Homo sapiens: one gene and its partners. The protein of the gene in region 1 interacts with the protein of each later gene in a pairwise test. Each region holds a gene or a part of one and is shown in the gene's direction. Other genes may lie near its edges. The genes, in order: USP16, EXOSC10 and SATB1.

Evidence for each region.
Region 2: the proteins of USP16 (region 1) and EXOSC10 interact in a two-hybrid assay, tested with the Homo sapiens proteins (one large-scale study listed by BioGRID).
Region 3: the proteins of USP16 (region 1) and SATB1 interact in a two-hybrid assay, tested with the Homo sapiens proteins (one large-scale study listed by BioGRID and IntAct).

The regions. Positions count from the first base shown.
Region 1 is NC_000021.9:29,048,611-29,051,923, forward strand, and holds part of USP16 (ubiquitin carboxyl-terminal hydrolase 16), read left to right. Parts: intron 1-150; coding exon 151-245; intron 246-1,481; coding exon 1,482-1,568; intron 1,569-3,313. UniProt on the Homo sapiens protein: Specifically deubiquitinates 'Lys-120' of histone H2A (H2AK119Ub), a specific tag for epigenetic transcriptional repression, thereby acting as a coactivator.
Region 2 is NC_000001.11:11,068,741-11,072,393, reverse strand, and holds part of EXOSC10 (exosome complex component 10), read left to right. Parts: intron 1-222; coding exon 223-307; intron 308-1,405; coding exon of another isoform or gene 1,406-1,420; coding exon 1,421-1,494; intron 1,495-2,663; coding exon 2,664-2,835; intron 2,836-3,653. UniProt on the Homo sapiens protein: Catalytic component of the RNA exosome complex which has 3'->5' exoribonuclease activity and participates in a multitude of cellular RNA processing and degradation events.
Region 3 is NC_000003.12:18,380,208-18,383,860, reverse strand, and holds part of SATB1 (DNA-binding protein SATB1), read left to right. Parts: intron 1-3,653. UniProt on the Homo sapiens protein: Crucial silencing factor contributing to the initiation of X inactivation mediated by Xist RNA that occurs during embryogenesis and in lymphoma.

The DNA.
Region 1 (3,313 bases):
ACAAATTCTACAATATTTGTTATCTAGTACTTCATAGAAAAAGTTTACTGATCCTTGCTTTAGATGTTTGGAATGATTTTATAGCAAATCTGAATGCTTTAGGGGTCTAAAATGATTTTCTCCCTGTTAAAAATTTCTTCTTTTCTTTAGGTGAAAGGAAGCATGTTTACACCAATGCCAAAAAGCAGATGCTAATTTCTCTTGCTCCTCCTGTTCTTACTCTTCATTTAAAGAGATTTCAGCAGGTACTCCTTGTTACCCAAAATTTGTTTTAAATATGTAACACCTACTTTATTACCTATTTTTTTCATTACTGTCTCAACATACTACTTTGTTTCTTTGGTTTTCTGTTGTTTCTTAACTGTAATGTCAATGAAGTCAGAAAGGGAAAAACATAGGGGCTAGGCAGAGGCGCATGTGAAGATGGAGGCACAATCTCCTCAGATTTCCTAGAACTCATTTATGTCCCTCTTTTTAGTACGATTGGCATCTTACTTTTATTTCAGGTTAAAAAAAGAAAAAGACTGGTGTGTTACATATATCTCATGCTTAGGAATATTAGTGATTTTTTCTGTTTTGTGTGTGGCATCTTGTTTTTACGGACCCTTGATAAAAAGACATTGGTGCCTTGGATTGTCATCATTTTGGTGACCTCATCTTTTCTGGAAAACTTTTGCTATAGCTGTATAACTTCTAAACTGTGTTGCAAATTCCGAAAGTACTTTCAGTATCTTCAGAACGTTTTGCCTCTTGTGGTTGGTATGGGCTTGACTAATTGGGTGGGCCTTTATTAACAATTCACTAAGCTTGGTTTGAGCATGAGGCTGAGAGCGTGTGTTTCACAGAAAAGTATTATGCTATCGCTGAGTTTTAAGCACTCAGAACCTGTGGTCTAATCTGGCATTTCTGGATGGCTGAAGCAGAAACATTGAGAATTTTCTCACGAGAAAAGTTGTTTTTCTTCTTTTTGAAACAGTCTTGTTCTGTCACCCAGGCTGGTGTGCAATGACACGATCATGGCTCACTGAAGGTTTGACCTCCCAGTCTCAAGCGATCCTCCCACCTTAGCCTCTATAGTAGCTGGGACTATAGGTGGCTACCACCATGTCCAGCTAATTTTTTAATTTTTTTGTAGAGACAGAGTCTCACAGTGTTGCCCAGGCTGATCTCGAACTCCTGGGCTCAAGTGATCCTCCTGCCTCAGCTTCCCAAAGTGCTGAGATTACAGGCATGTGCCATCGTGTCCAGCTGGGAATAGCTTTCTTAATGTGTTGGTGTGTGTTTTTTGTGTGATACATGTGTACTTAGCAAAAGCAAACCAACTTGGAATCAGTTAGTGTTCAGGAAGAATTGAGTCTCCAAAGAAAATTGAACTAGGACTTAATGTTGATATTCTTTTGGACGTCGGAGGGGACTTCGGTTTACTTAACCTGTATTGCTTTTCCAAGAAAAGAAGTCAATCTGTTATGCTTCTCTTTTAGGCTGGTTTTAACCTACGCAAAGTTAACAAACACATAAAGTTTCCGGAAATCTTAGATTTGGCTCCTTTTTGCACCCTTAAATGTAAGGTAAGTCAAAGTGGTCTTTTTCAGGAAAGTCCTTTAAAGTCAAATTGTGGCTTACCTAATGCTCCAGTAGCAACTCACTTAAGTATGAAGTTGATAACACTTATTGAGTAGAGTGGGTCTTTGATCATTGTACCTTTATAATTTGAAGATTAGTGATGAATCATTTTGAAGAATGGGTTATTTCAGTTCAACGTTTGGAATCCCCTTTATTATGGCATACATTGTCTTGTGAGCGGAGGGCATAAAACTAAAGGTGAGCAGATCTATTAATGAATAATCTGTTTAATGTGGTTGAATGTTAAGGCTGGTGAACATAGGTCAGGAGTGGTATACACTTAACCCAGCATGTTGGTGGTTCAGGAATGGCTTTGTAAAGTAAACCATGCCTCAACTATATTTAAAGAAGGAGTAAAAGTATGATGAATCAAGATGAAATGAGTTTTGCAGGCAGAAGGAACAGCAGGAGTAAAAACAGCAGTGTAAAATAGGATGGTGATTGCCAGAGACTGGTAACGTATGTAGTTCTAGAGTTTATAGTACAAGGTTATAGGGAGAGTTGAGAAATGAAGCCAGAGAAGTGAGATAGGAATGAAGTTTTGGAGGGTTCTCATGGTGAGGAACTTGGACTTCATTAGGTATACAGTGGGGAGCCCTGAGGAGTTTAAAGCACTGGGGTGGCATGGTCAGATCTTCATATGACGTAGGTTACTTGTTGATGTATGAAGGCTGAATTTTAGGACGGAAAGACTAGAGGTGGGGAAGTGAGTTTGGAGGCTGTTGTATTAATTCAGCCAGTAGTTGATGAGGGCTTAAAGTTGGGCAGGAGATGGGGAGATAGAAGGAATATTTCAGGAGGTAGAATTAACCAGACTTAATGATTGATTGGCACTGTAAGGTGAGGCAGAGGCCTTTTATAAGTGGATGCTGAGGGTGGCAGAGAAAGGGTTGAGGATGATTCCTGAGGCCTGGCACGACAGATGGGAGTGCTGTAAATTGAGATAGGATATATAGGGAGAAAAGCAGGTTGAGAAAAGCAGGTAGAGAAAGGATAATGACTTCAGTTTTAGATACATTTGAGTGTCAGATACCTTTGAGAAATTAATGTGCTTAGTCTAGAAAACATTTGGATATACATATCTGAGACCTATAGCAGAGAGGTTAGGATGGGCCCAGGGCACAGATTTAGAAATCAGTACATATGTGGCAGTTTAAACTATGAGAAGATGGGATCCCTTGTGTATAGAGTCTGAAGAGAGAAAAAGGAGATGGCCAATGACAGGACCCTCCTAAGTATCTGAGTGGAAGAGGCAGGGGTAGAAAGTGAGGACACCACAAAGGATCTCAAAGAATCTCCATGTTGAAGAATTTGGGGCTGGGCGTGGTGGCTTACGCCTGTAATGCCAACACTTTGGGAGGCCGAGGCGGGTGGATCACTTGAGGTGAGGAGTTCGAGACCAGCCTGGCCAGCATGGTGAAACCCTGTCTCTACTGAAAATACAAAAATTAGCCAGGCATGGTGGTGTGCGCCTGTAATCCCAGCTACTCGGGAGGCTGAGGCAGGAGAATTGCTGGAACCTGGGAGGCAGAGCTGCAGTGAGCCGAGATTGCGTCACTGCACTCCTGCCTAGGTGACAGAGCAAGAAACTCCCTCAAAAAAAAAAAAAAGTCTGGGCCAGTTGCTGTGATGGGCATAATGGAAGAGGCCGCTAAGGACAATTTATAAGATTATGGTCACATTGAGGACT
Region 2 (3,653 bases), on another chromosome or scaffold:
TGGCCCAGTGCCTGGAGGACAGTAGCACTTTGTCCTTAATAGGGATTTTAGCAATAAAGCCAGCATGAAATTTATTTTTCATGCCCTTAGATTTGAAAATTTATGACTTAGAATGTGTGTACTTCTTAGGTTAACCTGCCCTTCGTCACCTCATGAAAAGTAAGACAGACTTAGGTGGCTGACTTTGGAGGGTTTTTTTTGTTATATTTGCTTTCATTATAGATCAGCAACCGCTGGAAGCTGGCCCAGGTACAAGTACAAAAAGACTCTAAAGAAGCTGTCAAGAAGAAGGCAGCTGAGCAAACAGGTAACACTCACTTCCTTGCAACTCAGTCGGCTGTTAAAGAATGGCTGTTGCACACCCGCTGTTTCAGCCAAGTGCCAGATACGGCGATGAATGAAGCCCCTGTGGGGCTTCCCTTCTGCTGAGGGATGGTGGGCAATCAGTATCTATCCTGGCAGATGGCAGCAGGTGCTGTGCAGAGAGATTGGTGGGGAGTGCTGGAGGTGCTGTAGCTGTCTCGTTGGTGGTTGGAGAAGGCAGTCTAATGAATGCGACATTGACGAGACCTGCAGTGACCTAGAGAAGAGTTCTGGAGCCACAGCACAGCGAGCCCAGAGGCCCTGGGGCTAGTTCACTGGGCATGCTGAGCAGCAGCAAGTGGGCCTGCATGAGCAGAGCGGGTAGAGAAGAGCAGGAGATGGGGAAGGAGCCAGCAGAGGCCCACGGGATGACGCTGCCTTTTACTCTGAGTTCAGAAGCCAGGAGGGTGCTGAGCAGACGGGGGGAAGTGACTGACATGTGGCACTCTGGCTGCTGTGTCAACAGTAGACTATAGAGGACAGGATGGGAGTCCAGGAAGGGATAGGAGACATGGCAGTGGCTCAGGCGAGAGGGGATGGTGGCTTTGAGACCAGCGTGGGAGCAGAGGAGGTGGTGAGAAGCTGTCAGAGCCTTGATCTGTCCCATAGCAAAGCTGACAGCATTTGATGATGAGGTGGATGTGGCATGTGAGAAAAGGGAAGGGAACCTTGGATGAAGGTTTTGTCCTGAGCAGCTGGAAAGCTGGAGTTGCTGGCAGCCAAAGTAGCTGGTTTGAGCAGGTTTGTCCACGATGGTGATGGTGACGATCCTGTTAAACGCCCTCAGGTCCACAGGCCACTGAGCATTTAGGTTCACAGAAGAGGAGCAGGCAGGGCTGGGGAGGATCAGCTCACGTGTAGCTGAAGGTGGGCAGAGCACCTGAGCCTGAGCTCTGAGGCAGCCTGTCCTGCAGAGATGGGGGACCGGGGACCTGAGAGGGAGGAGGAATCAGCCGTGACAACCCCTGTGGCTAGGCCAAGTCGGAGGGGGATGGAGATGGAGGGGAGGGTGGTTGCTGGATTCACCAACTCCAGAGACAAGTTCTCTCCCTTGCAGCTGCCCGGGAACAGGCAAAGGAGGCGTGCAAAGCTGCAGCAGAACAGGCCATCTCCGTCCGACAGCAGGTCGTGGTATGTGCCAGCTTTTCTCCTTTTTCCTTTGAAAAACGATGCCCCTGCTTGTGGTCAGGATCTTCCTTGGATATCTTAGGGGGCTTGCCCTGTGCTTTATATTAAGTCCTGACTTCTTTCCGGTTCACCTTAGCTTGGCTATTAGTGTCTACCTCATTTCCGAAACCTCCACAAGATTGATATTGTAATTCCTCTTAACCTTCTTCCACTGTGTTTATGGTAAATATGCCAGACCACTCAACTGTAGTAGTAGAAAAGGTATTGAGGTTACAGTGCTGAAGCTTGTTGTGTGTCCTGCTGTGTCCTACAAAAATGTTGCATTCTAGAGAATGAAACCCCAGAGCACTCTGGAACTCTTTTTTTTTTTTTTTTTTTTTTGAAGTAGTGTCTACCTCTGTTGCACAGGCTGGAGTGCAGTGGCACAGTTGCAGCTCACTACAGCCTCAAACTCTTGGGCTCAAACGATCCTCCCTCCTCAACCACCCAAGTAGCTAGACCACAGGCACACACCACCATTCCCAGCTATTTTTTGTTATTGTTTTTGGTGGAGACGGGGTCTCACTATATTGCCCAGGCTATCACTCGAATTCTTAACCCCTGCCCCCTGCCTTTCCTTTTTTTTTTTTTTTTTTTTAATTTCCTTTTAAAAAAAAAATAGTGACATGGTCTTACTCTTACCCTGATGCCCAGGCTGGAGTACAGTGGTGCAATTATAGCTCATTGCAGCCTTGTACTCCTGGGTTCAAGTGATCCTCCCACCTCAGCCTCCCAAGTAGCTAGGACTACAAGCACGCACCACCATGCCCAGCTACATTTGTTTCTTTTTTTTTGTAGAGATAGGGGTCTTGCTATGTTGCCCAGGCTGGTCTCAGACTGCCTAAAGCAGTCCTCCCACCTAGGCCGCCCAAAGCACTGGAATTATAGGCATGAGCCACTGCACCTGGCCTGCTTGCCTTTCTTAAATGACCTCATGTCATTGTCCAGTGAGGAATTTGTTTCAGCTGACCCTGAGTGTTGGTCCCGAAGTTCCAGCCACAGCTCCTCTCCCCACCACTGACTGTTCTTCTTACCACTTAGGCAGCTGGGTCCCAGCTATTGCTGAGGCCGGTGGAGTTCCCTGTTCCCATGTGCCTCCCTGTTCCTCCCCCACATCTGTTCCTGATCTACAGCTAGAAAATGCTGCAAAGAAGAGAGAGCGAGCAACAAGCGACCCAAGGACCACAGAACAGAAACAAGAGAAGAAACGACTCAAAATTTCCAAGAAGCCAAAGGACCCAGAGCCACCAGAAAAAGAGTTTACGCCTTACGACTACAGCCAGTCAGACTTCAAGGCTTTTGCTGGTGAGGAAGTAATGGGGCCCCATACAGGGACATCTGTGCGCGTCAGAGGGGAGGAAGCCATAAAGAGACCACAATATAGGGGCCAAGTGAGTCCTGCACAAGGCATGGTGCTAGCCAGGAATTGTTGGAGTAGTCCAGAGAGGCCGTGGCAATGTGGACAGTCGCCTGCAGCCTCATTACCACCTCCTCCATGGGAGCTCAACTCATGGTGGCCTCCATGGTGGGTTAGCAAGATCACCTGTCACTTCCACTGTGACCAGGGCGCCATCCTTCCTCACTATAACTTGTGCCCATAAACCCTCTCTCTCTCTCTCACACACACACACACACAGAATTTTGTTTGTTGAAAAATCTCAAAGCCTATGACATGAACCCCTATGGCTGCTTGGGCTGTGAGAGTCCGTCTGCTTTGAAGGGGCTACAGATGGCATTCTCGACTCTAGCAGCCTTCGGAGCAACATGCTCCTTTGGAAAAGAGAAAGCAGAGGCCAGTCCACACAATGGCCCTTTATACAGGAGTGTCGCCTCAGAGCCCGAGTTCCTTATGGCATCACCCAGCACAGAGATCAGAATGGATTTCCTTATGTGCGGGGGCCACTGCTGTAGCCACCTGCCCCTAAGGTCCTGGGACTAGAGCTGAGAGAAATGGGCCTGGTTTTCAGACTGCCCACAGGGACCAGGATCGCTATGTATTCATTTATGTGAGCCATGAGCCCTAGCCCCTCATCGTGACAGGGGTGCTCTCACAGCCAAGGCTTCCCTGAGTGTCATGGTCCCGGCCTCGCTGTGAGCCTGTGATGTGTGGTAACTCATTGACC
Region 3 (3,653 bases), on another chromosome or scaffold:
ATTAAATGAATTAAATTTTAAGAAATCTTAAGGTATTAAAGGTATTATCAATGCAAAATTAGTACTTTAGATTTGGAAAAACACGTTATAGAGCACTTGAATTAGTGCTGTCTTGTAGCAGTTGAAATAATGAAATGATGCTTAAACTGGAACCAGTATGCATATTAAAAATGAGTTAAAATAAAGGATAAAATGGAGAAAACCACAGATAACACAGACTGCAAAATTTTGTCTTTTTAAATTTTACATTTTGCCAAAGAGGAGTCCATGTGAAATCAGTATACATTTCATTTCCCCCAAAATGAGGAGATTTGAAACATATTTTGAGACAAATCTTGGGTTTGGGTTGCACCTGAAACCTGATTTCTTTCTAAAGAACCACATGTTAAAAGCAGAGGCCCTCAGTGGTTCACAGAAAACCCAGCCCCCATTAAGGCCTGGGAAACTGGATTCTCTTCCACCTCTTTATAGAGTGTAAAACATGCAGAAGATGATTTTGGAGTGCCCTTGGGACATACCATAACAAGGACCTAAACTATTGAAGGACTTGAATTCTAAGTCATCTTCAAGAAAGGACTTCCTGGCTAGTCAGACCCCACCTGGGGACACCTAGCCTCAGGAAACACCAGAGCTCCTTGGTGGCCCAGTCCAGGTGAGATGCCTCCCTGCAGAGGTATCCCATGTGCTCCAGTAGGGACAGTTATGCCCTGTGCTTCATCCTCTGCCTGGGCTATAGGCTCTGGGCCAGACCTGGTTGCTGCAAACATTTTCACAACTTACATGCTCTAATTCAACAAATAAGAATATCTTGCACCTGATAATGATTCACACCCTAACTTGATAAAAGCTATTCTGAAAGCAGCTGAATACATTAATTCATTGAATCCTCATACCAACCTTTCCCTAGAAGAAAAATGAGAAAACCAAGTTTAAGGTTGAGTCAGAGTTTTCAAATCCTCTGCTAAGTCTCTTGCTCCTTCCTCTACTTCAAGCCACCTCCTCAGAATAAAAGCAAACTTATTTTAGAAAGGGAAAAGTGAAACTTGGAGATCTTTTTGTTTGTCATAGAGGATGGGAGGTTTTCTTGTTAGAATGGGAAGAGGAGCATGTGCTAAAGCATTGTCCTAATGAAATAACTTGTTTGACAAATTATCCAGTTGGGAAAACTAGACAATGGCATTTCTGGGATTGTGGGGAGAACAGCCCCTTTTAAACTTTGGTCTCATGAAAATATCTGGGAGAACCCAGTCCTCCCAGCTTCCTTGGTCTTAAGGTTTCTTTTCACTATAAGCTTTGCAGATTTTCCTGATGAGTTTATTAGAGGAATTTTTATGAACAATAATAATTCATGATTATTATCTGAGAATTGTATATTTTACAGAATTTTAAGTGATGATTTCTACCGTAAGGGTATACTTTTTAAAATTTGATTTGTGCATTTTATGGTGTGTGACTTTTGGAGTTAAATTAATTTAGCAGTTTGTTTCCATGAAGACTGTTTGAAAGCATATAATTACTGAGTTACAGCTTTTACATGAATTACACAAAAGTCTTTTTTTCTTCATTTTTTACATCTCTTTATGTAATTCTTCATTTTTTACATCTCTTTATGTAATTACCTAAAGAATTACTAAAGGTATGCTATTTCATAACAATGCTTTAGAAAATTTATGAAGTTAATATAAACAGTATATGATTAATCTGGTAGTTGCACTATTTTGTCTCTTTACAAGAAATCCCTCTACGATATAATGAAACATAGGTTCATCTTGATTTCAGGTTCAGTTACAGGCAGGAACTTAACACTTGGTAAAAGTTTTATTTCTTATGAATCCCTTGAAGATCATTTTAAGATGTTGCTTATGTGGTTATAAAATGCATCCCATTAATTGTCGTCTTTTAAAAGCTGGAAGACTTTTAAAGGCTAGATTTGGAAAATAATACTGTTCCTGGAAGGAAAGAAATATCTAAAAATATGAAACCATGGTGCTAAAGACAGTGTTAATATATTAAAATTTGAGAGTGGGAAATATTTTCCATCACTAATAAGCATCCATAAAAGAGGACATTTCTTATTTTCATTAATAAGAAAATATAATTTTTATACCCTGAAAAATAAATTTAGATTGGATTTTAATCAAAAATCAATAGCTATTAAAAAATTAGACATTAATGAGCTAGATTTATCAAAGGGCCACCAAAAAACAAGTCCAGCCTGCTCTAAAAATTAAGAATTTTTTCAAGTAAAGAAGGTGCAGGTAATGTCATGAACTCTAAATAACTTTGGGTTTCTAGTTAAGTTTAGATCTCAGCATTGCTCCACCAACAAATTGTTTAACCTGTTTGTTTTAACGGAGTTTTCTCAATTTTAAAATGGGACAATCATAATACCTCCTCCGGGCTGTTAGGCAAGTTAAGAAGTTAATATACATTAATACAATGTCCAGCACATAATAAACAACTAATAAATGTCAGTGTTTATTATCACAATTATTAAAACTACATATAACTTTAATTTTGCTTGTGTAAAAGCAGTGTGCTTGCAGGCAATTCTTCATGCATCAGAGTAGGATGTTCACCAATCAAGGCTGAAATAGAGTTCATTTCGTGTAAAATCTAAAAGCATGATTCAATGCATACAGCAATCCATGAAGAAGCAAAATAGAGTTTTTATGGAAAATGTGTGTCCTGCGGCACAATTTTAGTGAAATAAAAAGCAGACTCTAGTGCTGCACCCTATCCCCACATGGGAGGGTAAGTAGTAGAAGCTCCAATTCTTAACTACTTCCCCGGCGCCGCCTTAATAATGGAGTAGTACACCCTACCTTGATAAAAGCTATTCTGAAAGCAACTGCATTTATTTTACCTCCTGTGCTATTTGCGGAGAAGAGCTGAACAGTAGTTTGTTTTGCCTGGAATGAACTACTTTATGAATTTTAATGTGTGATATAATATTAAAAGCTAAACCAGGATTAAAGAAGATTTTTTTGTACTAAGCTAAAATAGTACTTAGTAGAGTGAGGTATAAAAGATTTTTGTTTCCATTTTTACCTGGGGAAAAATTCAGCTTTCATATTTTTGAAAAGCTGTCCAAGTCAGTTTCCCTTAAGCAATAGCTTGTGTTTAGGAAAAAAAAAAATGTGATTCTAGAATTCTAATAGCTTATCTATGATAAGATGTGTATCTGGGCCAACAAAATGGTAAAGAAGAGCTTTCCTAAATATTTTTTAAATGAGTAGTACAGAGATACTTTCTAACTTTGTAATTGTTAAAGTTTCACCCTCACATTCTTTTTTTAAAAAAAAATATTTCTTGTATACTTTTTTCACTTTTGTTTTGATTGTGTTGGCTACTAGGAAATGATTTTTTAAAATAATTTAGAATTTGTGCTTGATTATAATTGCTTTAAAATAAAAAAAAAAATTAACCAAAGAAGTTTTTAGAAACAAAGTCACAGGGTTGAAACAAATGATTATAGCGCACCTCAAAGATAAATTCTTAAACATCATTTTTACAAAATAATGAAAATTACTTTAAAAACAGATCGAAACACCAACTTTCCAAAGTCTGTTCTTTTAACTATTGCTTAGCAGATTGCTACCAAGGATCTGTTTCTTCAGTGCACTGGACTTGGTGCCCCCATTTCCATAACA